4 separate regions of the Homo sapiens genome follow, and regions 2, 3 and 4 are each linked to region 1. The links come from fine-mapping of genetic effects on gene expression. A gene starts in region 1. Each other region holds a variant in brackets. All regions are shown on one strand. Distances are between the middles of the regions.

Evidence for each region. PIP is the estimated chance that this variant, and not a neighbour inherited with it, causes the effect.
Region 2: its variant is fine-mapped to the expression of TMEM44 in spleen (GTEx, PIP 0.98).
Region 3: its variant is fine-mapped to the expression of TMEM44 in whole blood (INTERVAL, PIP above 0.99).
Region 4: its variant is fine-mapped to the expression of TMEM44 in spleen (GTEx, PIP above 0.99).

The regions. Positions count from the first base shown.
Region 1 is chr3:194,628,352-194,636,454 of GRCh38, reverse strand. It overlaps TMEM44 (transmembrane protein 44), which reads left to right and starts at 3,036. Exons shown (of 10, transcript NM_001011655.3): 1 at 3,036-3,376; 2 at 7,946-8,072. The coding sequence starts at 3,240. It overlaps TMEM44-AS2 (TMEM44 antisense RNA 2), which reads right to left and starts at 3,527. Exons shown (of 2, transcript NR_186047.1): 1 at 3,288-3,527. RefSeq lists an enhancer at 1-287 and a silencer at 2,838-3,267.
Region 2 is chr3:194,586,318-194,594,420 of GRCh38, reverse strand. TMEM44 (transmembrane protein 44) reads left to right here. Exons shown (of 10, transcript NM_001011655.3): 10 at 5,782-6,743. The coding sequence ends at 5,892. It overlaps TMEM44-AS1 (TMEM44 antisense RNA 1), which reads right to left. Exons shown (of 3, transcript NR_047575.1): 2 at 5,279-5,396; 3 at 3,589-4,566. Among named protein-coding and RNA genes, the nearest start is that of TMEM44-AS1, 6.1 kb to the right of the region's middle. RefSeq lists an enhancer at 4,534-5,733. The variant A/G (reference allele first, on the strand shown) is at 3,011.
Region 3 is chr3:194,658,086-194,666,188 of GRCh38, reverse strand. LSG1 (large 60S subunit nuclear export GTPase 1) reads left to right here. Exons shown (of 14, transcript NM_018385.3): 5 at 546-632; 6 at 6,056-6,116; 7 at 7,056-7,232. Among named protein-coding and RNA genes, the nearest start is that of LSG1, 10 kb to the left of the region's middle. RefSeq lists a silencer at 4,603-4,803. The variant G/A (reference allele first, on the strand shown) is at 4,686.
Region 4 is chr3:194,675,326-194,683,428 of GRCh38, reverse strand. LOC124909474 reads left to right here. Exons shown (of 3, transcript XM_047449428.1): 3 at 7,593-8,103. The coding sequence ends at 7,786. Among named protein-coding and RNA genes, the nearest start is that of FAM43A, 6.5 kb to the left of the region's middle. RefSeq lists enhancers at 502-551, 7,733-8,103. The variant T/C (reference allele first, on the strand shown) is at 3,346.

The sequences.
Region 1 (8,103 bases):
CAATGCCTGTCTTAGTCTATTTGAGCTACTATAACAAAATGCTTTGGACTGAGTGGCGTGTAAATAACACAGATTTGTTTTTCACAGTTGTGGAAGCTAGGAAGTCCGAGATCAAGGTGCCTGCAGATTTAGTTGAAGGGCCTGCTTTCTGGTTCCTAAAGGCGCCACCTAATATAGTTTGGTGCAAAAGTAATTGCGGTTTTGGCCATTAAATGTAAGCCACTTTTAATGGCCAAAAAAAGTGGCTTACTCTTAATGGCCAAAACCGCAATTACTTTTGCACCAAAGCTTACTTTTAATGGCCAAAACTGCAATTACTTTTGTACCAAAGTACTTTTATCTGGCTTTTTTTGTTTTGTTTTGTTTTGTTTGTTTGTTTGAGACAGAGTCTTGCTCTGTTGCCCAGGCTGGAGTGCAGTGGCGTGATCTCGGCTCACTGCAACCTCTGCCTCCCAGGTTCAAGAGATTCTCCTGCCTCCGCCTCCCAAGTAGCTGGGATTACAGGTGCCTGCCACCACACCCAGCTAATTTTTGTATTTTTAGTAGAGACAGGGTTTCACCATGTTGGCCAGGCTGGTCCGGAACTCCTGACCTCAAGTGATCCACCCGCCTCAGCCTCCCAAAGTGCTGTGATTACAGGCGTGAGCTACCGCTTCCAGTACTTTTAATAGCCAAAACCACAATTACTTTTGCACCAATCTAATACCATCAAATTAGTGATTAGATTTCATTTCTCCTGAGAGGTTATAACTTTGTTTTGTTTTGAGAGACCGGGGTCTCCCTATGTTGTCTAGGCTGGTCTCCAACTCCTGGGCTCCACTGATCCTCCCACCTTGGCCTCCCAGAGTGCTGGGATTACAGGCATGAGCCACCTTACCAAGCCAAATCATAACTTTGAAAACACAGTGAACCACTAAAATAGTGTAGCCACTTTGGAAAATAGTCTGGCAATTCCTCAAAACATTAAACACAGTTACCACAGATCCCAGCAAGGACACTCCTAGGTATATACCCAAGAGAGCATGAAACCTGTGTCCACACAAAAACTTGTGCACAAATGTTCAGAGCAGCATTATTCATAATAGCCCAAAGGTGAAAGCAATCCAAACATCCCACTAATGAGTGGATAAACGAAATGTGGTATAAAAATACCCATACCATGTATTATGATGAGCCATAAACAGGAATGAAGTACTGATAACACGCAGCAACATGAATGAACCTTGAAAACATGCTAAGTGAAAGTCACAGAAAGGTCATATAGTGGATGATTCCATTGATGTGGAATGTCCAAAATGGGCAAATCCATAGAGACAGAAGGTAGATTTGCGATTCCTGGGCTGCGAGTGTTGAGGGGAGTGGACAGTAACTGCCAGTGGGCCGGGTTCTTTTCAGATGGGGGTGATGAAAATGTTCTAAAAGTAGACAGTGATGTTGGTTGCACAACGCTATGGATACACTAAAAACTGCTGAATTGTACATTTTATTTTTTGTTTTGTTTTGAGATGGAGTCTTGCTCTGTCGCCCAGGCTGGAGTGCAGTGGCGCCATCTCAGCTCACAGCAATCTCCGCCTCCCAGGTTCAAGCAGTTCTCCTGCCTCAGTCTCCCGAGTAGCTGGGATTACAGGCGCCTGCCATCATGCCTGGCTAATTTTTGTGTTTTTAGTAGAGATGGGGTTTCACCATGTTGGCCAGGGTGGTCTCAAACTCCTGACCTCAAGTGATCCACCTGCCTCGGCCTCCCAAAGTGCTGGGATTACAGGCGCGCACCACCATGCCCGGCTAATTTTTGTATTTTTAGTAGAGACAGTGTTTCACCATGTTGGCCAGGCCGGTCTTGAGCTCCTGACCTCAAGTGATCCGCCTGCCTCAGCCTCCCAAAGTGCAGGGACTACAGTTGTGAGCCACCGTGCCTGGCCAGAATTGTACATTTTAAAAGTACTATGTAGGCTGGATGTGGTGGCTCACACCTGTAATCCCAGCACTTTAAGAGGCTGAGGAGGGCAGATCACGAGGTCAGGAGTTTAAGACCAGCCTGGCCAACATGGTGAAACACCGTCTCTACTAAAAATACAAAAATTACTCGGGTGTGGTGGCGGGCACCTGTAGTCCCAGCTACTTGGGAGGCGGAGGCAGGAGAATTGCTTGAACCTGGGAGGCGGAGGCTGCAGGGAGCTGAGATCGCACCATTGCATTCCAGCCTGGGCAACAGAGTGAGACTCTGTCTCAAAAAAAAAAAAAAAAAAAAAGACTATGCTTATGGCATATAAATAATATCTAAATAAAGCTGTAGTTTTTGAAAATTAAAAAAGATTTTTTTTCTTTTTTTCAATCCTGCTCCTTCTATAGAAATATTGTTTTCAAGTCATGTCTTGCTTTAAACAAACCTACTAAAATCAATAAGGAGATTTAAAAATTACAATAATAGTTTACTCTCAAGAAAAACAGCCCTGTGTACTTGAACTGTGCGGTGTGTGGCTGGACAGGAGGCGGCCGGTTGCAGAGATAACCAGCTCTTGGCTGCGGGGCCGTGGGCTAGGATGACATCCAGGAGCAGGGCTTGGGCGACTGCCTGGGGGCGGAGGGTGCCGTTGGCAGCTTCAGAAAGGAGAGTGAGAGGCAGATGTGGGGGTATTTGTTCTCCGGCACGTTTGTTTCCTCCTTCCTGGTCTTGCACCCCACCCTTTTTACTGCGCCCTGTCGGCGATCAGGACCACGCCCCCTTCACCTCGGGATCCCAGCACCCATGCGCTTCAGCAGCGCAACTAATTGCTGTTGGCTCAGGAAATGTGGACAATACGCAGGAAGGGACGCCGTGCCTTACAGCGACCGGCAGGGACTCGGCCGTCCGCGAGCCCAGCCGCCCGCCCCGCTCCGGCCAGGATGTTGGAGGTGGGTGACCGCGAAGAGGTCGGCGGGGGGCGGGGGCCGCAGTCTTTGTGCGCGCGCAGCTCCCGGCTCCCGCCGCTGGGGGGCGGCCTCCGCCCTGCCGACCCCCGACAATAGCGCGAGGGGTGGGGAGCGCGCGGTCCCGGAAACTTTTCCCCGGCGCCTTCGCCGCCGCCGCCCGCGCCCGGGAGCGCGCCCTTCTCTGCCCGCGGTCGGTGCGCTCGGCCGGAGGCGCCGCGGCGGAACGGAACCCAGAGAAGGGCACGCGGGGCGGCGGCGCTCGGGGCTTGCCCGCGGCGAGGGAGGCTGCGCCCAGGTCCCCGGCCCCGCGCCGCGCGCCCAGCCGCGCCATGGGGGAGGCGCCCAGCCCCGCGCCCGCGCTCTGGGACTGGGACTACCTGGACCGCTGCTTCGCCCGCCACCGCGTCTGCATCTCCTTCGGCCTGTGGATCTGCGCCTCCTCCTGCTGGATCGCCGCCCACGCGCTGTAATGGGGCCACGGGTCGGGGGGCTGTCGGGCGGGGAAACGGGCGCCAATCCCCTGCTGCTCCCTCTCGGAAACCTAGAGGAGGGGGCGGAAAGGGGGATGAAGGAGATGGCTCAGTAATAGGATCCAATGGAACATTGCTCTGTAGACTGAAGTGGGATCTTCTTTCCGGATCCCACGCACAGGGAAGCTGGGCTGTGAGCCAAAGGGAGGAGGCTGGGTGGTGCAGCGGATGGGGCCCCGAGGACACCGCGAGCCCTGGGTGCTATTGTCAGCCCTTCGCCATTGACTCGCAGTGTGACCTGGGCAAGCTCCAGAACCTCTCTGGGCCTCCTATGACCGGAGATAATACCTCATAGGATGATGGGAGGATTCGATGAATCAGTACCGTTAAAGCACTTAGTAAATGCTCATTAAACATCATTTGTATTGCTCCAGCTAGGCCACCAACTCTTAGGACCTTGGCAAGTCCCTTGATGTTTCTGGCCTCAGTTTACCCAAAGTCCTCTTAGGTGGGAAGGGAGGTAGTGATATGATCCAGCTGGCCTGTCTTTGCCCTGGTCTGTCCAGCACCTGGACTGGTTTGTCCAGATGCCCACGGTAGCCTAAGTTCTAAGAGTGAATCTCCAGGTCCTCAGCCGCTCTGTCCTAGGCATGGAAATCCACTAGCAGTGCTCAGGATGGTGCCGCCCAAGCATTCCCTGGCAGGGGAGAAAGGACCAGCACCCCTGGGAGAGGTTAGAACTGTCTCCCTGTAGGCACTCAGTGGATATTCTCCTAAGGCGTTTGGTCGTATTGCAGAGATTCTGCAGCCCCACTACCCAGTACTGCAATACAAATAAAAAGACGCCTAGAACATTTACTGTAGGCCCAGTGTTGCATTCATTAACTCATTCAATGCCTGCCACTCACAATATCAGCACCAGGAGGTAGGTGCTGTTACCCCCACTTTCTGTAGGGAACCCTGAGGTTCTGAGAGGTTAAATAACTTGTCTGAGTGAAAGGAAAGAACCAAAACCCCAGATCCTATTGGAAAGGGGCAGGCTGGTAAGAGAGATTAAACTGTTCAGATCAGAGGCTGGAAACTAACAAGGCGCTGGACACGCATTATCCTTTTGTTCCTCACAGTTGTCCTCAGACCAGCACTGTTAGGCACTTTGCCAACCTTGGAGGGGTTAAGAGTGAGCCTCTGCTTCTCACCCTGCCTGGGATCTGGACATACCCATTTGTTTTCAGGGCCTTGCCATCCCTGAACCTCCCCTGCTCCCCTTTCTCTTAGAAGAATGTGTCTTCGGAGTGGTGTGTGGGCTGGGTTAAGGTCAGCTGGCACCCTGGCCCCAAGAGCTGGGGAAGTGGCTGAGAACAACAGGGTACGGAGCAAAGCCCCCGCGTGTGAAGCCAGAAGACCACCATTAACTCACCTTCTCACCAGAGGCCTCAGTTTTGTCCTCTCAAATGGGAGGGTTGATATAAATTATTTCTAATTGGGGTCCGCCTCTGGGAGTCTCCAATTTAAGAATCTCCACTCCTTGGTCTTCAATTGGTTTTAGGAGCCCAGGGCCCAGACTGAAGTTGATGTTGCCACTGTGAGCTTCAGGCTTGGGCCAGCAGGTCAGGAAATGTTTAGAAAGCCAAGAGCCCTCTGTACTCATCCACCATTCCCAAGGACAGGCGCTCAGAATCAGCTAAATCGTCCTAAGGATGTGGAATGAGCACCACCCTCTGCTGAGTGGAAATGAAGCCAGCGCTGCCACCCTGTCTCGGTGTCTCCAGAGAAATGTAGCAAGGAGGCAGGTACGACAATGTATTTCAGAGGCCCTATCAGTGACGCCGATAGAAACAGCCAGCCCCTTCGGAAGGCAGGTACGACAACATATTTCAGAGGCCCTATCAGTGACGCTGAGGGAAACAGCCAGCCCCTTCGGGAGGCAGGTATGACAACGTATTTCAGAGGCCCTATCGGTGACGCCAATAGAAACAGCCAGCCCCTTCGGGAGGCACGTGCGACAACGTATTATTTCAGAGGCCCTATCAGTGATGCCGACGGAAACAGCCAGCCCCTTCGGGAGGCAGGTACAACAGCGTATTATTTCAGAGGCCCTATCAGTGATGCCGACGGAAACAGCCAGCCCCTCCAGGAGGCATGTGCGACAACGTATTTCAGAGGCCCCATCAGTGACGCTGACGGAAACAGCCAGCCCCTTCGGGAGGCAGGTACGACAGCGTATTATTTCAGAGGCCCTATCAGTGATGCCGACGGAAACAGCCAGCCCCTCCAGGAGGCACGTGCGACAACGTATTTCAGAGGCCCCATCAGTGACGCCGACGGAAACAGCCAGCCCCTTCGGGAGGCAGGTACGACAGCGTATCATTTCAGGGGCCCTATCAGTGACGCCGATGGAAACAGCCAGCCCCTTCTGGAGGCAGGTACGACAGCATACTATTTCAGGGGCCCTATCAGTGACGCCGATGGAAACAGCCAGCCCCTTCGGGAGGCAGGTACGACAGCGTATCATTTCAGGGGCCCTATCAGTGACGCCGATGGAAACAGCCAGCCCCTTCTGGAGGCAGGTACGACAGCATACTATTTCAGGGGCCCTATCAGTGACGCCGATGGAAACAGCCAGCCCCTTCGGGAGGCAGTACGACAGCGTATTATTTCAGGGGCCCTATCAGTGATGCCGACGGAAACAGCCAGCCCCTTCGGGAGGCAGGTACGACAGCGTATCATTTCAGGGGCCCTATCAGTGACGCCGATGGAAACAGCCAGCCCCTTCTGGAGGCAGGTACGACAGCATACTATTTCAGGGGCCCTATCAGTGACGCCGATGGAAACAGCCAGCCCCTTCGGGAGGCAGTACGACAGCGTATTATTTCAGGGGCCCTATCAGTGACGCCGATGGAAACAGCCAGCCCCTTCGGGAAGCAGGTACGACAGCGTATTATTTCAGGGGCCCTATCAGTGACGCCGATGGAAACAGCCAGCCCCTTCGGGAGGCAGGTACGACAGCGTATTATTTCAGGGACCCTATCAGTGACGCCGATGGAAACAGCCAGCCCCTTCTGGAGGCAGGTACGACAGCATACTATTTCAGGGGCCCTATCAGTGACGCCGATGGAAACAGCCAGCCCCTTCGGGAGGCAGTACGACAGCGTATTATTTCAGGGGCCCTATCAGTGACGCCGATGGAAACAGCCAGCCCCTTCGGGAGGCAGGTACGACAGCGTATTATTTCAGGGGCCCTATCAGTGACGCCGATGGAAACAGCCAGCCCCTCCGGGAGGCAGGTACGACAGCGTATTATTTCAGGGGCCCTATCAGTGACGCCGATGGAAACAGCCAGCCCCTCCGGGAGGCAGGTACGACAGCGTATTATTTCAGGGGCCCTGTCAGTGACGCCGATGGAAACAGCCAGCCCCTTCGGGAGGCAGGTACGACAACGTGTTTCAGAGGCCCTATCAGGGACGCCGATAGAAACAGCCAGCCCCTTCAGGAGGCATGTACGACAATGTATTTCAGAGGCCCTATCAGTGACGCCGATAGATACAGCCAGCCCCTTCGGGAGGCATGTACAACAACGTATTTCAGAGGCCCTATCAGTGACGCTGATAGAAACAGCCAGCCCCTTCCTGCCCTTCCGTGCATCTTCTCCAGTGGATATGGACTGGGGAGGGGCTGTAAGGGGAGAAGTGGCTGTGGGGGCGCTGAGGGAGGGACAGCTCCAAGTGCCAAAAGGGCTCTGTGTTTAAAGAACATGGACACAGGCCAGCAGAAGCCAGGCTGCCCCACTTCACAGATGGTTTAGAAGAATTTCGTTTGAATTTATTTCAGAGAAACAAGTTGTCTTTTTAATTCAGGCAATTAACTGTGCTCTGCAGTTATCTGCAGTGGTTGGGTTGCTTTTTTTTTTTTTTGAGACGGAGTCTCGCTTTGTCACCCAGGCTGGAGTGCAATGGTGTGATCTTGGCTCACTGCAACCTCTGCCTCCTGGGTTCAAGCAATTCTCTTGCCTCAGCCTCCGGAGTAGCTGGGATTACAGGCGCACGCCACCACACCCGGCTAATTTTTGTATTTTTAGTAGGGGCGGGGTTTCACCATGTTGGCCAGGATGGTCTCGAACTCCTGACCTCAGAGGATCCTCCTGCCTCGGCCTCCCAAACTGCTGGGATTACAGGTGTGAGCCACCATACCCAGCCTGAGTTACTTTTATAACCCTCCTGTTTCCTTTTCAAAAAATAAAACCCGATGGCTGCTTTTTCAGTGCTAGGTGGGGGGTCATCAAATGGAGCCGTCCTGATTTGGAGTCGGAAAGTAAAATTCCTCTTCCTCCAAAGAGGCGGTGTCTTCACATCTCACGAGGTCTAGCTCCTGCCATGGGCATCTGGACAGGCGGCTCTGGAGTCTTCTGATTGGTTCCCATCTGTAAACTCAGTTCAAAAACACGTCCTAAATACCTCGGGCAGAAAGAGCTCCCTGACGATGCGGGGTCACAGTTGCCCTTTTTAGATACATGCGTTTGGGTCCAAACTCACAGTTGCTGTGTTCTGTCCACACCCCTGTCACCCCAGGCTTCTCTATCTGAGATGTGCACAGAAACCCAGACAGGACCAGTCGGCACTGTGTGCTGCGTGCTGCCTCCTGACCAGTCTGTGTGACACCGTCGGGGCTCTTCTGGCCAGACAGCTCACAATCCAGGTATGTTGGGCCTCCAGCTGACAGTGGCTTA
Region 2 (8,103 bases), 42 kb after region 1:
GAGGCTGAGGCAAGCTGATCACTTGAGGCCAGGAGTTCGAGACCAGCCTGGCCAACATGGTGAAACCCCATCTCTACTAAAAATACAAAATTAGCTGGGCATGGTCCTGGGCGCCTGTAATCCCAGCTACTCAGGAGACTGAGGCAGGAGAATTGCTTGAACCTGGGAGGCAGAGATTGCAGTGAGCCGAGATCGTACCATTACACTCCAGCCTGTGACAAGAGTGAAACTCCATCATACACAGATAGATAGATATAGATAGATAGATAGATAGATAGATAGATAGATAGATAGATAGATAGAAAATTAGGCCAGGTGCTGTGGCTCATGCCTGTAATCCCAGCATTTTGGGTGGCCAGGGTGGGAGGATTGCTTGAGCTCAGGAGTTCAAGACCAGCCTGGGCACCATAGACCTCATCTCCACTAAAAAAATAAAATAAATGTCAGCCAGGCATGGTGGTACACACCTGTAGTCCCAGCTACTCAGGAGTCTGAGGCAGGAAGATCAGTTGAGCCCAGGAGATGGAGGCAGCAGTGGGCTATGACCATGCCACTGCACTACAGCCTGGGCGACAGAGCAAGCCCCTCTCTCAAAAAAATTAATTAATTGATTTTTTTTAATGAAAAATGTTAAGGAGTTGAACATGCTTTTGTTTTAATGTGATAATAACCCTAAATCCTGTGGACTGCTCGGACTGCCTGCTATTTAATTTAATAGACATTCCCAGATCAATGTAACAGATATTCATAGATTCTTAGCTCATGTCAGAAACATATGTTTCCCAGGCGCTGCAGGAGGTGCTGGAGTAACAAGGGCAGACGTGATGCCTGCCCTGCAAGAACTTGAGTCAGACATATTTGAGGTTTGGAGTGGAACCAACCATGCAGTAAACACTGACTACAAATGAATCTTGGCTGGTAGCAAATACCCCATATTTGCAAGGCAGGAATTTTATTGGCATCTCAGTTTTATGGGTTTGAGTTGAATCATCTCAGCCATGTGGTTAATAAATGGGAGATTTATTATTATTACTGCTACTCCTCCTAATAATAATAATAATTTCTACTAATAGTAATTTTTAAATCTTGATAGATTGTAATTTTTCCCAGGACGTGCAGCCCTTCATAATTATCATAACTATCTCATTGATCATTTAACTAAATTGTAACTGCTAGTAGCTGCTGCCTTCCTGCTTGCTGAAGTCACCTGTTCCTTTGCCCCCAACCATCTAAGGGCCTGTCTCCTGGCTCACTGAGCAGACAGGAGCTGGTCCTGAGCTCTGCTCTGCTGTGGGATGGTGGCAAAATCTGTCCAACACTTTTTCTGTCTCTCTTTTTATTCTGCAGCAGAAGTATTGGGAGGCCCTAAACTCGGAGCAGGTATGGACGATCATGCTCTTTCTCTTCCAGGAGGGACTTCCTATGGCTTGATTTCAGTTCCTGTTTTTGTTAGACCTTGTTAGATGGCTAGACCCATGACAAATTCCTTCAGTAAAAAAAGAATGTCAGGCCAGGCGCGGTGGCTCACACCTGTAATCCTAGCACTTTGGGAGGCCGAGGTGGGCGATCACCTGAGGTCAGGAGTTCAAGACCAGCCTGGCCAACATGGTGAAACCCTGTCTCTACTAAAGATACAAAATTAGCCGGGCATGGTGTCACATGCCTGTAATCCCAGCTACTCAGGGGCTGAGGCAAGTGAATCGCTTGAACCTGGGAGATGAAGGTTGCAGTGAGCCGAGATTGCACCATTGCACTCCAGCCTGGGCAACAAGAGTGAAACTCCATCTCAAAAAAAAAAAAGTCAAAATGAGAGGCAAGACTGAGGATGAATGGGATTTTCAGGGCTCTCTCAGGTCAGAGTTCTTTCTGCTTTGGGGGTATTCAGGTAAGCCCAAGTAATAGGGACTCCAAGAAGACGTGTAACCCAGTGAAGAAACATGGTTTGGAACAACAGTAGTAGTGGCCGGCATGGCTGCAGTAGCTGTTGCAATAAACAGTTCCAGACATTGTCATTCTGGGACCCTGGGCAGCTGGCTGCTGTCTCCATGCCACCCTTGCCTCCAAGTGACAGGCATGTTTTGTGACAACTACCTGTGCCTGTCATCTCCCAGGATTGTTTCTGATATGAAAATGGATCTTTTGCTCAGATTCTCTTCATGCCTGGTTTCCAGCAATGATTTTTTTTTTTTTTTTTTTGAGACGGAGTCTCGCTCTGTCGCCCAGGCCGGACTGCGGACTGCAGTGGTGCGATCTCGGCTCACTGCAAGCTCCGCCTCCTGGGTTCATGCCATTCTCCTGCCTCAGCCTCCCGAGTAGCTGGGACTACAGGCGCCCGCCACCGCGCCCGGCTAATTTTTTGTATTTTTAGTAGAGACGGGGTTTCACCTTGTTAGCCAGGATGGTCTCGATCTCCTGACCTCATGATCCACCCGCCTCGGCCTCCCAAAGTGCTGGGATTACAGGCGTGAGCCACCACGCCTGGCCCAATGATTTTATTATAAAATGAAGTTTTTAGGCCGGGCACGTTGGCTCACACCTGTAATCCCAACACTTTGGAAGGCTGAGGGGGGCGGATCACCTGAGGTCAGGAGTTGGAGACCAGTCTGGCCAACGTGGCGAGATCCCCATCTCTACTAAAAATACAAAAATTAGCCAGGTGTGGTGGTGTGTACCTGTGGTCCCAGCTACTCAGGATACTAAGGCAGGAGAATCACTTGAACCCAGGAGGCAGAGGTTGCAGTGAGCCCAGATCATGCCTCCAGCCTGGGTGATGGAGTGAGACTCTGTCTCAAAATAAATAAATAAATAAATAATGAAGTTTTAAAACACATTATTCTGGAGAGTCAGAAAAAATAGATTCTAAATGTTTTCTAAGATTTGTACCACTTTATTTTTACTTACTTATTTATGTATTTATTTATTTTTTGAGACAGAATTTCACTCTTGTCGCCCACGCTGGAGTACAGTGGCGTGATCTCGGCTCACTGCAACCTCCGCCTCCGGGGTTCAA[A/G]CGATTCTCCTGCTTCAGCCTCCCAAGTGGCTGGGATTATAGGCGCCTGTCACCATGCCTGGCTAATTTTTTGTATTTTTAATAGAGATGGGGTTTCACCATGTTGGCCAGGCTGGTCTCGAACTCCTGACCTCAGGTGATCCACCCGCCTCAGCCTCCCAGAGTGTTGGGATTACAGGCGTGAGCCACCACACCCAGCCTATTTATTTATTTCTTGAGATGGAGTTTCGCTCTTGTTGCCTAGGCTGGAGTACAATCACACAGTCTCAGCTCACTGCAACCTCTGCCTCCCAGGTTCAAGCGATTCTCTTGTGTCAGCCTCCCAAGTAGCTGGGATTACGGGCGCCCACCACTATACTTGGCTAATTTTTGTATTTTTGGTAGAGACGGGGTTTCACCATGTTGGCCAGGCTGGTCTTGAACTCCTGACCTTAGGTGATCTGCCCGCCTCAGTCTCCCAAAGTGCTGAGATTACAGGCGTGAGTCCCCGTGCCCGGCCTGTACTAGTTTAAAGAGCTCACCTGATCAAAGTGACAGGTTTCTGTCTGCAGGCTGCTGAACTGGTCACGGTTGGCAAGAATCATTCTTCAGCAGCCATTTAAGAAGCTCGAGCAGTGGTTCTCAATCATCAGGGCATCTAAGAATCACCCTAGGAGCTTGTAAAAATGCCAAACCTTAGGTCTCTACCCCCTACCCAGGGGCTAGGGTGGGCCCCAGCATCAGTGTTTTTAGCCAGCAGCCTGGGTGCTTCTGGTGTGGCTGGTCAAGCACACGCTGTGAGAACAATGATCTAGGTCTCAGGCCTCAGCTTAGAAACCGTTTTCATCAAAGAGCACACTGACCATCCTCAGAGAACAGAACAGGGCCCTACTTTTTTCACTGGGCAGGTGGGTCACGTAGGCTGAGGGGCCTGGTGAGCTCTTTTATTTGGGGTCTGATAAGGTCAGAAAGGAATTTGGTTCAAGGGGTCCAGCCAGGTCTGCGACCGCAAGTTAATGCGATGTTCTCACTGGAAGTGGCTGGCACAGCCCCAAACAGGTGCAGGGGACGAGCTGCCCAAACCCAGTCACTGCAGGGTCACTGGGAATCAGGTGGTCTTTTTAACATGATGGCTTTTAAAATCGCCAAGTATTAGTACTCGATTCAGTTATTATCAGTAAATCACTAACAAACTGGGCTCTTTATTTCTGTCCAAAACAAGGCCACAATTTGTGTTTTATCACTGGGATGGCATGGCCATTGTGTCAATGGCTCAGGGAGACTTCAAGATCTTCGCTGGAACCTCTAAGGATTGGAATGTTCGATTCAGCTTCAGTGTGAGCAGCTGTCAGGGCATCTTTCTTGGAGAGCATGTCCATGCCTGGGTCTATTATCTTGTCCAAATAGATCGTCTGCCCAGGCAGACACAGCCTTTGTCATCTTTGCTTCTTGTTTCCTGGGTTTCCTAGTACTGTCAAATGTGACCTTGTGCCTCAGAATCATCATAGACGCTTGGAAATGGGAGAGATCTTCTTATCTCGTTGCTGATCCAATACCACAGCATACACATGGGGAAACTGAGGCCCCAAAAACGAAGGCAAATTAGTGACAGGAGGAGAACTGGAGCCCAATCCCTACTTGCCTCCATGGCTGGAACCTCAAAGGTAACACCAAGGATCCCCTTGGGCTCTAATCCATCATCTTAGAACAGCAGGAGGGCTTCACAGACAGCTTTGTCAATGCTTCTGTGCCCACTTGTATTAACCCGTCACTCACCCCTGCAAATTTCAACTTCCCAAACCCACCTGAGTCGGTGATGAACTATTCACTGGCAGTGCCCCCCCGCTCTGAATTGGGTTTTAAGTGATGACAAGTCGGCTGAGCCTCAGGTTTAGAGGAAACACCGTGTAGGAGCAGGAGCGAACGTTTGCTCTGTTCCCGTGGAGCCCATCATCTACCTGAGACAACAAGGCAGATGTCCGCATAAACGCCAGGGCTGTCCGTGCTCAGGGGCAAATCAGTGGAATAGGTAATACAAAGAGAAAGGCAGGTGAGAGCTCAATGGGCTAACACGGTCAAGGTAGGCTTCCTGGGGGAAGAGGTATTTACCTGGCCCATAAAGAATAGGTTGAAGCTGGGCATGGTGGCTCAAGCCTGTAAGCTGAGCACTTTGGGAGGCTGAGGCGGGAGGACTGCTTAGGTCCAGGAGTTCGAGATCAGCCTGGGCAACATTGCAAGACTTTATCTCTACTAAAAATTAAAAACTTAGCCAGGCATTGTGGTACACACCTGTAGTCCCAGCTACTCGGGAGGCTGAAGCAGGAGGATTGCTTGAGTCTAGGAGTTTGAGGCAGCAGTGAGCTATGATTGCACCACTGTACTCTAGCCTGGGTGACACCGCAAGACCCTGTCTTAAAAAAATAAAAAAGGATTAAGTTTGCCTGGTTTTTTCCAGGAATGAGTTAGGCATGGAGTCAGGATAAGGAGAACATGACTCAGTGTCACTAGATAAGGACTTGGTAGAGGCAGAGAAGAGTGGAGAATGAGGGCGGGAAGGAAAGTGAAGCTGTTATGTTTAGGGTGGTTGTTCATTAGTTGCTTGATGTAAAGTTATGCTTGCCTCCTTAGGTCCCAGAAACACAGGCCTGGGTAACTTGTCCTTACCCTTTTGTCCTTGTCTGTGCCTGGATCATGAGAACCAAGATTGGAGCTTTTGTTTGGGTCAGGGGTTATGACAGATGAGAAGCATCTATCCGTTCCACCCAGCTACCCTTTGCATCTTTTCTCCATAGTGGGACCCTGAAGATGTGAACCTCGAAGGCAGCAAAGAAAATGTGGAGCTACTGGGATCCCAGGTGCACCAGGACTCTGTGAGGACAGCACACCTGAGTGATGATGATTAACACCTTCTGGAGCCAGCTCATCAGCTCAGAGCCCAGGGTCAGGAGTTCGTTCAGTAACGCAGCGGGAATCAATCTGCACTGACACCGCGGCAGGAACTGAAGCTGCCCTGGCAAGTGAGGAACCAGGAGCCGTCACTGAGTGTGGCTGGGCTACATCATAGCTCATCACGGAGCTACGACTTTGGGTACTGCGGACAGACCTGGATAGGCCCAGCATTCGTTCTGAAGATCACAGTTCACAGAAGCTTTTGCTTCGTAAAGATAATCCAAAGGATCTCAGACCCGCTCTTCCTTTTCCCTTCATTCCCTTGAGAGTCAGCCATGAACGGAATACCTGCTAGGTTCCAGGAATGAGCTCACCTAACAGATAGCAAATGTGTCTGGTTAGATCTCAGCAGAGCCCATTCTGCAAGACCTGGCTGAGCCAGATGAGAGGGTGGGCCCTGTGCTGGGGGGCCTTGGGTCACACACAGGAACCGAGACCTGGCTTCCACCCCCCAGTCACCCACTTGGGTTATCTGCTGGAAGTTATCGATAGGACTGTGTGGCCAACCAAGTGCTTGTGAGATCACTGACACTGCAAAAACAAAGCAAACTGCTCCGGGTACCAGGACTTCCTCCAACCTGGCAAGGGTGTGCGCTGAGGCGGGGCTTGCAGGTGAGGGGGCTGTATGCTTCAGGAACTAACTAAATGCATGCAGAAGGTAAGAGGCATGATGGGAGGTGTTCAAGCACAGCAATCCCATTTGGGAGTTATTTTGATACTGCGATGAGTAAGGGTAAGGGCGCATGGAATGGGGCTAAGGTGGGAGTGAACACTGGGGTGAATAAATTTTAAATCAATTCAAGTATCTCACTGTGGAGTGCAATGGCGAGCATGAATCCCTGCACAGTCACAGAATGACGTCGGCCACGAGAGGAAGTGGAGAAATGCCAAGCAACACAGTTTTGCTCCGGGCTGGCCCACAGCCGCCTGCGTGACGCAGCTACAGCAGCCCAGTTTCTCCTGAGGGGTAGGGCAAGTTCCAGCAGCATGAAGGGGGTCCCTTGGGGAAGCAGCGTGGCTCTGCAGGTCTCTGCATAGATCCTAATCCCCTGGGTGACCTCTGAACTACAAGTGATCTTAAAGCCACTTTATTTATCCCCTTTAATCTGAACTGTGTTGGTCCCTGGTTGTCTTGGAAAGTTTGCTGAAGTCAGCTTTGCTTTGTGATGTTAACCACTGAAGCTGTACTTCCAGGGAAGAGGAAGATTTGAATGGAGACCCAGGATGCAGGGAGAAAAGAGTGTTCAAATAGATGAAATAGTACAGAGGACTGGATGCAGGGAAAGGTGGGAGCTAGCAAGGAAGAATCTGAGATGGCCAGAATGGATGATGTAGTATGGGCTGTAGGGGTGGCAAAAAGGCTGAAAAGGAACCAGACTGGAGGCTGGTGAGTCAGTGCTTGGTTCTGTGGCCAGCTGGTAGCCATGGAAGATACCAGAGTAGGAAGGTGACTGACTTGCCTCAGGAAGACCACAACTGATTGGTGAGTTTTTCATTCCTATGGCTACAACTTTCCAGGAAGCAGAAATATAGTCATGGGTACAGAATGAACGTGGGGAACAGGTTTAATCTAGAGTACTGAGTGGTAACAGCAGGGCAGAAGAGCTTCTCTTTAGAAAGGCGGAAGGCATGGGGATAGGATGACCTCTGGAGTTTGCCTTTAGCACATCCTCTGTCTTGAGGGAACTCTGGATCATGCTCCCTAGGGCACCAAAAATTGGTGGGATCCAGGTGAAAGTGGCCATTCACCCAAGAACATCAAATGATCTTGGCCAGGTGCAGTGGCTCACACCTGTAATCCCAGCACTTGTGGTAAGCTGCGGCAGGCAGATCACTTGAGGACAGGACTTCAAGACCAGCCTGGCCAACATGGTGAAACTCCATCTCTACTAAAAGTACAAAAAATTAGCCAAGTGTGGCGGCCCGCACCTGTAGTCCCAGCTACTCAGGAGGCTGAGGCACAAGAATTGCTTGAACCCACGGGGTGGAGGTTGCAGCGAGCTGAGATCGCACTGCTGCACTCCAGGCTGGGCAACATAACAAGACTGTCTCAAAAAACAACAAAAACCTTGCTGACTTTGAGTAACACGAACTACCTAAGGTCCAGATATCATCTATCTCCCTAGATCCTGTTAGCCCAGCCTCCTCCCTTCACAAACTGGTTC
Region 3 (8,103 bases), 30 kb before region 1:
CTCTATGAAGACTTACTTTGAAATCCTGAGTTCAGATATTTGGCATGCTTACACAGCCATTTGTGTTTTGAAGTTTTGATTCTTTTAAGAAGGAAATGGTAGCATTCTGCTAACAAGTGCAAATAGATGTATGCACAAACAAGATTGCTAGGTGCAAATGCATCCTTGCACAGAGATCGTGAGTTGGTTACTCTGCTCAGTTCCGGGCCTTTTCCTTTCATTCCCTTCTTTGGCCATTGGGCATCCTGGAGTTGATCGCTGCTCTCCTGCACATTTTTCCAGTAAGAGTGTGGGAAAGAAATGACTTTGTGTGATAGGTAAACTTCCAGGGCATAAATAGCTTCAGGATAAAATTTGAATTTGGTGGAGTATTGTCTAAATAAATAGTATTTTTATGGTGTCTCAGCAGGAAATATATAAAATAATTTGACTCTGGATATTTGTGCCCAGTACTTATTTTTAATGTAATAAATTTGAGCATTTACACTGCTAAAAATTGTCTATTATAATCTGGCAAATATATAAACTTCTCATTCAAAAACTAGGCTAGAAGAGGAACAGAAGCTGATATTGACTCCATTTGAACGAAATTTGGACTTTTGGCGCCAGCTCTGGAGAGTCATTGAGAGAAGGTGAATTATCATTTTCTTTTGTGTAATAAAGACATTGTAGTGAAGTTATATTCGATTTGGCTGTTGATATAGGCTTATAGGCTCAGGGTATGGGAATTAAGCTATGCAGAGGGTTACTGAGAATTATAAAAACACAGCATGATACTACCGTATATTTTGTATAGTTTTTTTGTTGTTAGATGAATATGTTGATAAGTGTGTGAGAATAATGAACATTTTCTGCAAGGTGAATTCTGAAGCACCTATATAGATATTTTAGCAAATGTATATTTGGTTTCTACTGGTAATGTGGAAAATATGGATACGAAAAAGAGTTAAGTTCCTGCCTGCAAAGAGCATCTATGTTATGGGGAGAGGCGAATGTCAGAGCTCCTGTCAGCCGAGTTACACCATGTTCAGCTAAATGCTAAGCAAAGCACCAGGCACCAGGGACACACAGATGAATGACATGCAATTCTTGCACTCAGAAAACTTAATACGTAGTGAAATACAGAGGGCAGTATGATTCCTGCTTTGCTGCAGATAGAAAGGCAGTGGGCTGAGTCATAGCAGAGGAAGGAGTGGTTGATAAGTATTGAGGAAATCACGGGGTGGTTTTTATGTTTTTTATTTATTTATTTATTTATTTATTTATTTGAGACGGAGTTTTGCTCTTATTGCCCAGGCTGGAGTGCAATGGCACGATCTCAGCTCACCACAACCTCCGCCTCCTGGGTTCAAGCAGTGCTCCCGCCTCAGCCTCCCAAGTGGCTGAGATTACAGGCGCACACCACCACGCCCAGCTAATTTTTTTTTTTGTATTTTTAGTAGAGACAGGGTTTCACCATGTTGGTCAGGCTGGTCTCGAACTCCTGACCTCGTGATCCACCCGCCTCAGCCTCCCAAAGTGCTAGGATTACAGGCATGAGCCACCATGCCCGGCCTGGTTTTTATTTTTTTTAACTGGGCTCTGAAAAGAAGAGAATGATTTTGACAAATTGAGAATGGGAGATCTTTATTCTTTTTCATGTAATGCTAAGGAGAATTCCTGATTGTTAGAAGTTGATGAACACCTGTCTCTAATCTCACCTCTTTGGTATAGTTAAAAGGTTTCTGTTTTCCTCAAAGAGTTTCTGAATTACTTTCAAGGATGCCATAAATGAACCTTATATTTGAAATGTTTTCAACAAGGACCCTTCAGGCTGGTTTTTTTTCCTTTGAAATCTATAAAGTGAACCTAGTAAGAACACTAGGAAACAGAATGCTTTAATTGGGATTCTCAGAAAAGAATCTTATCACATTTAGCATTGTTATTAAGAAAACAGGGCCCAGCGCGGTGGCTCACACCTGTGATCCCAGCACTTTAGGAGGTCCAGGCAGGTGGATCACTTGAAGTCAGCAGTTCGATACCAGCCTGAGGAACGTGGTGAAACCCTGTCCCTACTAAAAATACAAAAATAGCCAGGCTTGGCTACTACTTGGGAAGCTGAGGCAGGAGAATCACTTGAATCCAGGAGGTGGAGGTTGCAGTGAGCCGAGATCGCACCACTGCACTCCAGCCTGGGTGACAGAGCAAGACTCTGTCTCCAAAAAAAAGAAAACAGTACTTGGACTAAACTTGTAAAAGTCACTTACATTTCCTATTAGGGTGATGACAAAGTCACTTGAATGCCCCCATCCTCAGCTCTCTACGGGTACAGAAAGGGCTCTTGGGCTGGGATGCGGGGAGGTCAGAGAAGCAAGGCAAATCTCTAAGGCAGAAGAAGGGAAAGGCTTTCTCTGAGGCAGAAGAAGGGAAAGGCTTTCTCTGAGGCGGAAGAAGGGAAAGGCTTTCTCTGAGGCGGAAGAAGGGAAAGGCTTTCTCTGAGGCGGAAGAAGGGAAAGGCTTTCTCTGAGGCGGAAGAAGGGAAAGGCTTTCTCTGAGGCGGAAGAAGGGAAAGGCTTTCTCTGAGGCGGAAGAAGGGAAAGGCTTTCTCTGAGGCGGAAGAAGGGAAAGGCTTTCTCTGAGGCGGAAGAAGGGAAAGGCTTTCTCTGAGGCGGAAGAAGGGAAAGGCTTTCTCTGAGGCGGAAGAAGGGAAAGGCTTTCTCTGAGGCGGAAGAAGGGAAAGGCTTTCTCTGAGGCGGAAGAAGGGAAAGGCTTTCTCTGAGGCGGAAGAAGGGAAAGGCTTTCTCTGAGGCGGAAGAAGGGAAAGGCTTTCTCTGAGGCGGAAGAAGGGAAAGGGTTTCTGCTGATTTGGGGTCCATGCAGGCTCCTTTTACTCAAGCTTGAGGAGGGCTTCGGAAGGCCCACAGTCATTCTCCTGGGGAACTGGGGAACTGCTGTGGAGCAGAGTAGCCTCTTCGTTGGTGCCTCCTTGGTAGTTGATGCTGTGTACTCCTGAGAATGCCCGTTTTCTAATTTCCGAAGAGAAATGGTAACAAGTGCAGAAGTACTGCAGCCCGGACCTTGAGGACAGCACCCTCCATCTTCACACTTAATTACAGTTTTTGTTTTGTTTTCAGATTTTGTCCTACTTCCTATATTATCTGTCTTTCCTCTTTGTTCCTTTTCTTTTTCTCCTGGTTTCTGACTTTTACGGAAGAGGCCTTCCTCAGGTGTCTAGTGGTGTTTATCTGTCTTTAAGAACAAAGCATTACAAAGCCGGTTGACAAGCCTGCCTGTTTAGGTGGAATTTGCCAACTGGTGAGCTTCACTGTAGGGTGCCTGGGCAGGGGTCAGTTTTATTTTGTTGGAATACCCCAAGATGTTAAGATCTGTAGGTCTTTTCCCCAGAGCCAGTCAGTTTTGTGTGTGTGTGGTTTTGTTTTGTTTTTTGAGACGGACTTTCGCTCTTGTTACCCAGGCTGGAGTGCAGTGGCGTGATCTCGGCTCACTGCAATCTCCACCTCCTGGGTTCAAGCGATTTTCCTGCCTCAGCCTCCCGAGTAGCTGGGATTACAGGCACGCGCCACCACGCCCGGCTAATTTTGTATTTTTAGTAGAGACGGGGTTTCTCCATGTTGGCCAGGCTGGTCTCGAACTCCTGACCTCAGGTGATCCACCCACTTCAGCCTCCCAAAGTGCTGGGGTTACAGGCATGAGCCACTGTGCCCAGTGCCAGTCAGTTTTTAAAAAGAAGAATGATCTCCTGCCAGGAAAGGGGCAGGAGGTGGTATAATACAAGGGTGCTGGGCACCTTCACAGTTCAGTATCTTCATAGGCTTATGCTGAATTCCCCTTTTTGCCCTATGGCAACTCTTTCCCATTTTCCCTGTGCCTGAGGTCCCAGTCCTGGAACTTGTCAAGTTCATTTTCTCCATAATAAACCCTAGCCTTCTGCTATTGGGGTGGGGAATGGGGGCTGTGTGGTGGGTTGCAGTTGCCTCACTGAATGGAACAGGGTAGCCGACCTATGAGCTCACTGTTCAGATGGATTACGGGCGCGGGCCTCGTTCTTGCCCTGGAGAGATAGAGCTGATGTTTCTAATACTGGGCTTTCTTGGGCGTCAGGGGCATGAACAGGTTTGCTTCTTGTTGGTTTGACATTTGGTTGCTGCTGTTCTTTCTCTTTATCCTAATGGGTTTCAGCCTTTGTTTTTGTAGGTTTTGAGAGGGAGCAGAGGTAACCATCTGTGTTCAGTTTAACAGGAAGCCCCTCTTACACTGTTTATGTCCCTAATAATTTCCCAAGTGAGCCTGTACATGTTGAAACTTCTAGCTTCAGCTTGGATTACAGTATTATTTGCTCTCTTATTTTTGTTATGTGATATTTCTCCTTTTTTTAAATAAGAGAACATGTTTTCTAGCTCAAGGAATATAGTTATATGAAAGTGGATCTGAATTACACAGAAATATTTATTTAAAAATGACTGCCGCCACATCTTTGAATGGGAAATATTTATTGATGTCTTCTCCACAGCAGATGTCTCCTGTTTGGTAACAGGCTGGCTAAACCATCTGCCTCTTTAATTCTAATAGTAGTTATCAGAAAAGATTAGATGTATAACATGTCCTTGAAATGCAGGAAACCGCAGAGGCACTGAGGGCGGAACACTGTCTTCCAGTCAGATAAGGCACTTCCATTGTGCTGTGTA[G/A]ACCCCTCCTGCTACATGGCTGGTGCTTTGCTCTGCATCCTCACTCAGCACATGAAGCAGCTGTCTTGAAATGTCTTTTCTTACTGCTATTTCTAAACTGATGGTTCTTCCTACATGTTCTGTATGTAAACATAATGTTTGTAGACATTGTAGTTTTAGTTGATTAGGCTTTGTCCATTTTTTTGTAATCATTTTTTCATTCACTATTAAATATCCAGTTTGAAAGTGCATTATTACCTTAAAGAAGGAAATACTAGAAGCAGCTGAACTAGAGAACTTAAAAAACAATTTGTCCAAAATTAGCAACTCTGTGAGTTTGTGTCAGAGGATTATGCTGACATTTTAACTATCCTAAAAGAAAATGCACTTTTAATTGTCAAAAGAATGTCCTAAATGGTAACCTTAATTCCTTGGAATTTAGCATATTTGCAAAGTTGCCTCAGAAAAGGCTGGTTAACAGAATAAGGATTTTGGGGAGACTCTGCCGTGAGGTAGTCATGCATCTGTAGCTTATGTCCTCCCAGCGGCAGTCACGGTGGGCCTTTATAACATCTAGCACAGAGGCTGAAGGAAGGGAGGAGCCTCCCATAGAAGGGAATTTTTTTTTCTCCTTGCAGTGCTGGACACCTGTAGTCCCCACTATATTTGTGAGGGATTTGAGGGGCTTGCCACCAGCTGCAGAAAGTTATCTTATTGCTGTACTTTCTTATACGTGATGGAAGAAGTTGGACTTGCCATTCCTGCTTCAGCCGGGCAACCTAAGTTAATACTTTCCTGTTTTCTCTTTTTGCCATTTAAACACATTGTTGGAATTGGTGGATGATTGTTTGCCAAAAATATGCTTTCTTCCTTCTTATTCCTGGGTTTAAATAAGATACTAGCTTCAATAGTGGCAGCTGTCAGCAAGTGATTTACTAGTTTTCTTTTGAGGCCTTAACATGAGGGCAGATTAGGGATTGAATATTTAGTAGACTTTGCCGTGGAGTGAAGTGTTTGGAATACTCTTTTATCTCACCAGGACAGTTTAATAGAAGTACGGTGGATGTCTTAGCAATGAAACATCATCCGAACCCCTCTAGGCTGTATGAGAGCAATAGCATGTTATGATTAAGAGCATCACCTCTGGTCCAGGCTGCCTGGGCTCCCATTCTGGCTGTGTTACTTACTAGCTGGTGGCCTTGGGCAAGTTACTTAACTGCTCTGAGCCTTAAGTCACTCATATATAAACCGGGAATAATTATACCTTAAAAAGTTAATATATGTCCAGTGCTTAATATATTGCCAGGGTTTGCTACTCTGGCCATTATTATGTGGTTAGTAAAATCCCTTTCACTTCACGGTGATTGGTCTATCTCGTGTTTGTTTTTCAGTGATATTGTGGTCCAGATAGTAGATGCTCGAAACCCACTCCTGTTTAGATGTGAGGATTTGGTAAGTCAAGTTTGACAAAATTCAAACATCAGTCCTTTGAGTAGCAGTGCCAGCACCGCATCCCTCAGCAATGACTGTAGGCATACATTCTGCCCTCTCTGGCTTCGTTTAGTGAGGCCTTCCCTCCTTCCAAGGCCAGGAGCTTGCAGAACGCCACTGTTGAGACAGATGTTTTCTCAAACAATGGTGTCCATCTGCAGGAAGGCACAGACACTTAAATGAGCTTTCTAGCTTTTAGTTTAGAAGCCACTTAAGGCATTTGCCGGTTTCCCATTTGTCAGGGAACACCAGTTGAAATAGCATTTTATTTATTTTAGCATATTGCCGGTCACTTCACTTTTTAATTCATCCCATAAGGTTCTGTCTTCTCACACTTTAGTTATGACTCCCTGTGGTATTTTACAAGTGAACTAAGTTTATGAAACACCACAGGGGCTGATAACTAACATGTGAGAGTCCCATGAAATAATGTAATACAGCTTTGGGTTAGTTAACAAAACATTGTATAATATGTGAGGTATTCATATTTCTTTTTGAGAACTGTAATACATATTATTTATTTATTTATTACTATCTTATAGATCTAATTTTTTGTAGAGACAGGATCTTGTCATGTTGCCCAGGCTGGTCTCGAACTCCTGGGCTCAAGCAATCCTCCCTCCTCCGCCTCCCAAAGTGCTGGAATTACAGGCGTGAGCCCCCATGCCTGGCCCAGATTATTTTTAAACCCACTGGTGCATAACAAAAATATTAATGGTGGAACTTCTTTTCAAAGCTTACTGAAAGGATTAGTATAATGTGTCATGATTAAAAATGTTTAAATTAGGAAATGATTTAAAACTAGGGGCAGTAAAAACTTGTATTGGGATCTTTAATATAATTAGCCTCATTTTTTTACTTGTTTGAAGAGGTCTTTCTAAATCTCTTTGTCTTGCTTAGGAATGTTATGTGAAAGAAATGGATGCCAATAAGGAGAACGTCATTCTGATCAACAAGGCAGACTTGCTGACTGCTGAGCAGCGGAGTGCCTGGGCCATGTACTTCGAAAAAGAAGATGTGAAGGTTATTTTCTGGTCAGCTTTGGCCGGAGCCATTCCCCTGAATGGTGACTCTGAGGTAACCTGAGGGACATTTTAGGTTGGCTTTCAAAGAGGGAATTTTGATTTCTTGTTAATGTGCTTCGTTTGTGTTTTGTTTATTCTTATGGAAAATCTGTGGGAATTAGAGTTTTTCCTCTGTGTGCTGGATTAGGATGACCTATAGAAAGTGAATCACAAAGTTACTTTCTCTGTGGTTGTTGGACAGTCTGACCTCTCCAGTGTTGTTACACACTGATATTAGCTGTATTTTTAAATTTTTTTAAAAGGTTGTAGACAGGAAATTGTATAGGAAGTTCCACAATGACCCTGTAACTGCTTTTAAGAGAAGTCAGAACACAAGAGTACAACTGAAGGATGTAGTCAGTTCTCAGGACTTGATTAGAATCTCTTTTGACTTTGTTTTGAAAACAGAGAAACTAAGTAACCCTAAATTAGGATATACCACATATTTTATCTTTTAGCCCAAATTTTGCAAAAGTAGTTTGGGCTTTATTTTTACTTTTGAATAAAATAATATCTATAAGAGGGCCAGGTGCCGTGGCTCACTCCTGTAATCCCAGCACTTTGGGAAGCCGAGAGGGGCAGATCACCTGAGGTCGGGAGTTCGAGACCAGCCCTACCAACATGGAGAAACCCCATCTCTACTGAAAATACAACATTAGCCGGGCATGGTGGCGGGTGCCTGTAATCCCAGCTACTCGGGAGGCTGAGGCAGGAGAATCGGCTGAACCTGGGAGGCGGAGGTTGTAGTGAACCGAGATCATGCCAGTGCACTCCAGCCTGGGCAACAAGAGCGAAACTCTGTCTCAAAATAATAATAATAACAACAGCTATGAAAAGAAATTAGTAATTAGAATCGTAGAGATGGAGAGACTTAGGAAGTACTG
Region 4 (8,103 bases), 47 kb before region 1:
ACTCCACAAAAGCAGACATCATGTTTAAGCAGTGATCATTTCCAAATCGCTCAAAGTTCCAAGGCTCAAGAGGGTTTGGGGAAGAGGAAGAGGGAGTAGTAGCAGGAGCTAAGGCTGGTCTCAGCCTCAGCGAGAGGCACCACTTTGCACTTCATGCAGTGGCATGGACCCCAGTGGCCCACAGAGGCAGGGAGGAGTCTACTGGTGGGCCGGGCTGTTCAGCAGCAGCCGGAGTGCCAGTCCCAGCGGCACAGGCCCACAGAGCTGCTCCTGTTGACGAGGCTATGTCACGCCTTGACCGCCTTCCTAATAAGCTTGTTTCCAACCTTGGGAGAACAGAAAGGTTCTAGGCCAGTGTGAACACCCTGGTGTGAGTCATGCCCTGGAGGAGAACCCGCGGTCCCCTTGTGGCCTGGACCTGTGCCAGCCTCTAGGGCCCGCCTCACCTTATGGAGAAGCTGACCACCCCACCTGAAGCACACATCACAATTAAGGCTGCGTTTCTTCAGCTGGGAGAGCTGGCAGCACCATGTGGGAGTCCACATCACAGATCTGAGACAGGGCAACTCCAGAACAGACTGTCAGCAAAGTGGAGCTGGGAAACAGGTTAGAAACTGCAGTGTACTTTTTTAATGACACTGCCCCCATCTACTGGTAGCAGGCAGAAATGCTGCTCGGTGGATGGTTTCTCGTCAAACCAGATAAGCTAGTGGTTGAAACTACACACAACCGGGTCGCAGTTGGAAGGAAATGCTGCCATCAGGAGTCCCAGCCCTAAACTTGACATCCAGGAGTAAGCCTTTCATCTCACAGAGGATTTGGACCAGCTTCCTCCCACCTTACGTCTTACATAATGCTCCTTCCTCTCGCCCCTCCTCCAACATCCTACTCAGTGGACATTGACTTCAGAGATGACACATGACGAATCTGGAATCTTCAATGTCATCTAGTAAATACTTGTGGAGAGTCTCCCATGAATGTCACATAGTTGCTGGGGATATAGCACTAAAGAGGACAGATAGAGAGGTCTTTGCCTGCATGGGATTTATAGCCTCTGGTGGAGGCAGGAGGGCAGACAGTAAACAAAAAACTAATGAAATAGCAGATAGTGAAAAGTCTCTGGAGAAAAGGAGGCAGTGCTAGGAGTGAGAGGTGGCTGGTTTAGACAGCATGGCCAGGGAAGGTGGCTCTGGGCAGAGACAGGAATGAGATGAACCTGCAAAGAGATGGGGGAGAGCATTGCAGCCTGTGCGGCCCAGTACGCAGTCACCAGCCACAGGCTGCTGCTGCCACTTGAACCATAGCTGGCCCAAATTTAGACGCACTACGAGTATGAACTACACACTGGATTTTCAGGACTTAGTAAAACAAAAAGAATGCAAAAAATCTTCATAATGTTATATTCATTATATATTGAATGATAGTATTTTGGCTATGTTGATTTAAATAAATTATTCAGATTAATTTTACCTATTTCTCTAGCCTGGTCAACATGGTGAAACCCCGTCTCTACTAAAAATACAAACATTAGCTAGGCATAGTGGTGCATGCCTATAATACCAGCTATTCGGGAGGCTGAGGCAGGAGAATCACTTGAACCTGGGAGGCAGAAGTTGCAGTGAGCCGAGATTGTGCCACTGCGCTCCTGCCTGGGCGACAGAGCGAGAGTCTGTCTCAAAAAACAACAACAACAACAAAAACTTACCTATTTCTTTTTGCTTCTTTAAGGTGGCTATCAGACACCTTGGTTTTAGCCCAGTGAGGCCCGTGTTGGGTTCTAACCTGCAGCGCTGTGAATTTGTGTTGATTTAGGCCACTACGTTCGTGGCAGTTTGTTCCAGCAGCAGTACACCTCCCATCCAGCCATCTTTTCCCTTATCCTGACTCTCTTCCCTCTCCCACTCTCCTCAACACATACGCTAAGTCCTCACTAGTTTCCCAAAGCCACTGGCTCCCCCAGAGCTCAGCAGAACTGACCGGGTGCTTCCCCCACAAAAACGAGGCAGTTAGAGCAACCTCCAGCCCCTGCCAACCTACAAAAAGCACGTCCACACCCAAGCCCACCTCCCTCCTCCAGGCTCCGAAGTCTCTCCTCCCTTCAACCTGCCCCTCTGAAAGCCACCTTCAATACTTACCAAACCACACCTCTGACCTTTTCTCTCTTCCCCTTTTAACCTTCAAAATGGCTTCCCATCAGCCACACGGTACACTCCCACTCCTCAGTATAACACATGAGAATGTTCAGGTCTGGCACCTGCCTATGTCTCCAACCTCATTCTTTTCTCCTGGACTCCTAATTTATGAACCAGCCACAGAGAATAGCCTATGCTTCTCCCCATGCTCATGAGAGTGGTTTTTCCCTTCCTGCCATGCCTTATGTGGCTCTATCTAACTGATATGACCTCCTCCTGCCATTTGTCCCGGCCAAGGCTTACTCATTCTTACAGAGCCATCTTGGATACCATTTTCTCCAGGTAAACCGCCTAGGCCTACTCATCGCCTCTCCACATGCCCTTGTGTGCATCCTTACCTCTGCACTTGCCCTGTTATAATATTGTCTTTTTTTGAGTCTTGCTGTGTTGCCCAGGCTGGAGTGCGTGATCTTGGCTCACTGCAACCTCTGCCTGCCAGGTTCAAGTGATTCTCCTGCCTCAGCCCCTTGAGTAGCTGGGATTACAGGCACCCACCACCATGCCCGGCTAATTTTTTTTTTTTTTTGAGATGGAGTCTCTGTTGCCCAGGCTGGAGTGCAACGGCACAATCTCGGCCGGCTGCAACCTCTGCCTCCTAGGTTCAAGTGATTCTCCTGCCTCAGCCTCCTGAGTAGCTGGGATTACAGGTGCGCAAAAGCGCGTCTGGCTAATTTTTGTATTTTTTAAGTAGAGACGAGGTTTCACCAAGGCCAGGCTGGTCTCGAACTCCTGACCTTGTGATCTGCCCACCTCGGCCTCCCAACATGCTGGGATTACAGGCGCGAGCCACCGTGCCTGGCCTATAGTATCGTCTTTAACTCTCTGTCTCCCCCAGTAGACTATGGGCTCCTTATGGCTGGTGACTGTATTTTATTCACTCTTTGTATCCCCAACTTCCAGCACAATGCCAGCCACCAAATTAATGTATGGCAAGTGTTTCTAGAACGAACATTAACCATGTGTTTATTTTCAAAGTCATGGGACTGTCATGAGCACAGACTGTCAGAACTGGAAGAGCGTTGTCTGGAAGGCCCTTCGAGATAATCTAGTCAACCTCCCCTGGCTTTACAAATGAGGACACTGAGGCCCTGACAGCGCAGGTGCATGGCCATACAGTAACTTAGTGGCCACACCAATATGAGGATCCATGTGG[T/C]CTGAATCTCAATCCAGGGCCCTTTCCTGTGGCTAAACGTAAAGCCAAAAGCTTCTAAACACATATATGTATGTAGAACCCACGTCCTTCGTTTGCTCCCCCTCTAGGAAGAGCTGCTTGGGGGCTCACAGGTTCATTTGATGATCTGAACAGGAGCAGAAAGCCAAACATACTTCTGTGACTTGACTGAGTGGCCACTCGCTGGGCCCCTTAATGAAAAGTGCACTTTGCTAATGGCTCTCACTGCCCCCAAAGACGTTAGAGTCAAGCATGACTGTCACAGGACTCCACCAGTGAGACGGGTCTCTGTTGTGGTCGACATCGCACTTGGGTCTCTGAGAGTCTGGTAGCCCATTTCCCATTGCAGGAGAAATAACTTGTAGTCAAACAGTGCCCAGACCAGGGCCCTCTTTAGGAAGGAAGTGGACTTCATGCTAAGCATGGAAGGAGGGGCAGATTGCTGTCAACAGAGGCAGGAGAGAGCGGTCCAGAGGAAGAAAATGGCCCATGCAGAAGGTAGTTAGTGTTGAACATCCAACAACTGGGCAAAAGGAGGGAATGCAAAAGCACTGAGCCCCTACCGCATGTCAGACACTGTGCTGAGTCAGATCCGTCCAAACATTTCATGCTCCTAAGAGTGTTGTCAGGTCTGTGCTAGTCTCTTCATTTTTCCGGGGGAAAGGACCACAGCTTGGAGGAGTTAAGAAATTTGCCCAAGATCTCCAAAGCCTGTGTTCTTTGTGTTTGGGTCAGGCCAGGGCCTGACTCCTGATGGCCCTGAATGGCAGGAGGAGGCGTCTCATAAGCTGTGGTGAGTCACTGGAGGTGCTAGAGCAGGGACATGCCACGATCAGAGCCAAGGCTCAGGTACACAAGATTGGCCAAGAAGGAATCCAGACCCCCGCCCTCCAGCCCTGACTCACCGAGGGTCCCGGAGCACGCTGCTGCCCTTCTCTGCCTATTGGGGAGCTGAGCAAATCCTCATTCATTTCTAAGATCACAAGAAAGCTGCAGGTATTTCCTGCAGCTGCCATAACAGATTACCATAAATGAGGTGGCTGAAAACAACAACAATGTATCCTCACAATTTTGGAGGTTGGGAGAAGGCAGCATCCTTCCTTGCATCTTACTGCCTTCTGATGGCTGCCTGTCATCCTTGGCGTTCCTTGTTTTTTAGACATATTGCTCCAGTCTCTGCCTCTGGCCTCTCCTTCTTTGTCTTCTGCATATGCAGCCAAATGTTTCTCTTTCTAAAACAGTAGTTACTGGATTAGGGCCCGTCTAATCCAGTATGAGTTCATCTTCACTTGATTACATCTGCAAACACCCTTTTCCAAACCTGGTACAGTGAGTGGCTCATGCCTGTAATCCCAATATTCAGGAGGCCCAGGCAGAAGGGTCATTTGAGCCCAGGAGGTTGAGACCAAGCCTGCACAACATAGTGAAACCTCATCTCAAAAAAAAAGACCTTTTTCCAAATAAAAGCACATCCACAAGTACTAGGGGTTAGGTCTCGCTCTGTTGCCCAGGCTGGAGTGCAGTGGCACTATCATAGCTCACCACAACCTCGACCTCCTGGGCTCAAGTAATCCTCCCACCTCAGCCTCCCAAAATGCTGGGATTACATACAGGCATGAGCCACCAGGCCTGATCATGTCTTTGTAAGGGACACCATTAACTCAAAACAGAAGCCATGTTTCCAACAAAGCGCGCTGAAAATAAATAAATAAATAAATATAAAAGACAAAAGATCAAAACAGAGCCCATGACAGGAAATTGCAGGAGTGAGAGAGAACCAACAGACAAGTCAGAGGTCTACGAACTCTGGAGGTCACCCTGTGACCAAAGCTCCCAGAAGTGTTCTCACCATGCCCCTTGCCTTGGAGCCTCTCCTTTCATGGGCTGCTTGCTTGGAACCTTGGACGAGGTTCGCACTTGGGTCTCTGAGAGTCTGGTAGCCCATTTCCCATTGCAGGAGAAATAACGTGTAGTCAAACAGTGCCCAGGCCAGGGCCCTCTTTAGGAAGGAAGCGGACTTCATGCTAAGCATGGAAGGATGGGCAGATTGCCGTAGACAGAGGCAGGAGAGAGCGGTCCAGAGGAAGAAAATGGTCCATGCAGAAGGTAGTTGTTCTGATGGACAACCTGCCATCAGGAGTCAGGCCCTCGCCTGACCCAAACACAAAGAACATAGGCTTTGGAGATCCAGGCAGAAATGCAAGGGCACTAGAAGGAAGCCAAGAGTGATGAAATCATGAGCCTTACAAACGAGCCTTCTCCTCAGTGCCACCAAAGGCAGGGACCAGTCAAGATGGGTTTGTCCCCTCTGAAGATGGAAGGAGGGGACATGTTACCCCTACATGATTAACTTTAAAGCAGAAACCATGGATCTTTCATTCAAACTGATTCTTTTTAACATTTCCATTTGTGTTAGTAGTATCTGTGACTAATGATGGCTGAATTTGCTAAATGTTGGTTCTCGGTACCCTCAACTATCTCATGACAATGAGGGCAAGATGTACTCTTTTTCTCATGTGACATGCTGAAGGCACCACCCTGCTTTTGCCAACCTAGGCACCATTTCTGAGACCATCACTGTTCCCTTGCGATTTCAAATACTGGGATGAGGCAAGGGATAGCATAAAAAGGAAGAGAACCTACCAGGGTCAGGAATCTGTTAAGTACCTTAGCAGTTCTTTATTCCAACACCCACTTTGAGGCTTGAACCTGACTTAGAACATCTGACACCTGATTATCTGGTTTTTGCTTGAATGCCTCTGGTGGCAGGGAGCTCACTACCTTACTAAGCTGTCCAATATGTCTTTGAGCCCCTCTGATTGTAAGAAGTTTCCAACAAATTGAACCTCAAATTATAACCCTGTGATTTCTACCCATTTGTTCTGGTTGTTCTTGCCTTGTGTCTTCTCAGAACAGTCTTCTCTCCTTTCCCTATGACAGTCCTCCACATCAATGGAAATGGTTCCCACATACCCCTGGAGCCTCCCTCCTTAGGCTAGTCTCATTTCCATCACCTTTTCCTCATACGACATAGTTGTGCGTTCCAGCACCATCCAGGTTTACATGCATATATATATTAGGATATTTACTATGGTTTACATGCATATATGTATTAGGATATTTACTATGGGGAATTAAGGAGATGGATCACTTTCAGAGACAAAACATAAAATCCTGGTGGTCAGAAGCCCTCTTAATGGAGTAAGGTCTACCTGGTGGTGTAGTTCATGGCTCCCTGACTTGAGCTCTTTAACCCTGGCTGAGTCTCTCTATTAGGCTGATCACCACTAAAGTGTAAGCTCTTCAGGGCAGGGAGTTCGTCCAGTGCTGAATCCTCAGAGTCCTGTGATGAATGAACCAATGAATGAATGAATGAATGAATGAATGAATGAATGAGTGAATGAATGAATGGATGAGTGAGTGAATGAATGAATGAGTGAATGAATGAATGGGAGAAACCTAGGACTTTCCATGTACAGATTTTAGAGTTGGTGATTATTAATTCTACTTCTAGCCTCCTTTATTTTACTTTATTTGCTTAACTTAACCCTATTGAGACTCAACTTCTACAGCTAAAAGTGCAGTAAAATAACAATACCCTTTTTCACTTGACTGTCAAGAGGGAAAAAGTAATTGCAAAGGCATCTCTGAATAAAAGACACTAGATATTCCATACATAACACGAGTTGAGAAAAAGTTCGTGGGTTCAAATACATAGGATCTTGTGGCCTGTGTCACCAAAGCAAGAGGTCTTTTACACATTTCCTTGCACAGGCAAGAAATCAATGTTTGATTGCAGGGACTCAAATTAATCATTATAATAGCCACCAATAAATGTCTGCTGACAGTAGGGTGACTATGGTTGACAATATTGTGTTGTATATTTCAAAATAACTAGAAGAGAGGATTTTGAATGTTCTTACCAGAAAGAAATGATAACTGAGGTGATGGATATGCTGAATACTCGGATTTGATTATTACACAATGTATACATGTATCAAAACCACCTCATACATACATACAATTATTATATGTCAATTTAAAAGATTTTTTAAAATCTGCTGAATTATGAAACTCGTGAGAATCCACCCATTTTCAATAGGGATAAACTGAGAATGGCAGTTAATCATAGGGAGTTTCCCTACTGATTCAATTACGCTCTACAGAGGCTGCCAGTGTCTATTTTCACAACTCTCAGTCTTATGCAAACTGTTTTAATGTCCTTGTAGAAGGAGGTGGTGTATCGTATGGGAAAGAAGGAGAGACCAGACTGCAAGCTCGCCTTGGAACAACTTTTCTGCCACCAACTCATTTTTGGCCAAAGTATGACAGGAAAAACAACAGAAACCAACCCACTCTTTCCTCTCCTTCCTCAGACAGATGTGGAGCCCAGAGGCACAACAGTGTGGACTTGGAAAGCTGAAAGCAACTCCAAAGTTTGTTGCTGGGTGTGGGTTTCAGAGCTTGTAACTACATTTGTTGAGACGCGGTAGAAATCAAGCATTATGCAACCCCATGAATAGGGAACACTCCCTGTGTCACTATTTAGAAGCTGGGTGCCAGGCTTCCAATCCCCAAATCAATGCAGCCTCCTCCAGGAGCCAGCTTTTCAGAGAATCCTGGCTTTAACGGAAGCGTTCAGCTACGTGGGGAATCGGGAGGATCTGGCCCATCTTCCAGTCACAAGCCTGGTGGGCGACAGTTTCCGCTGGCGTGAGAAAGCAGTGACAGGGGTTCGGC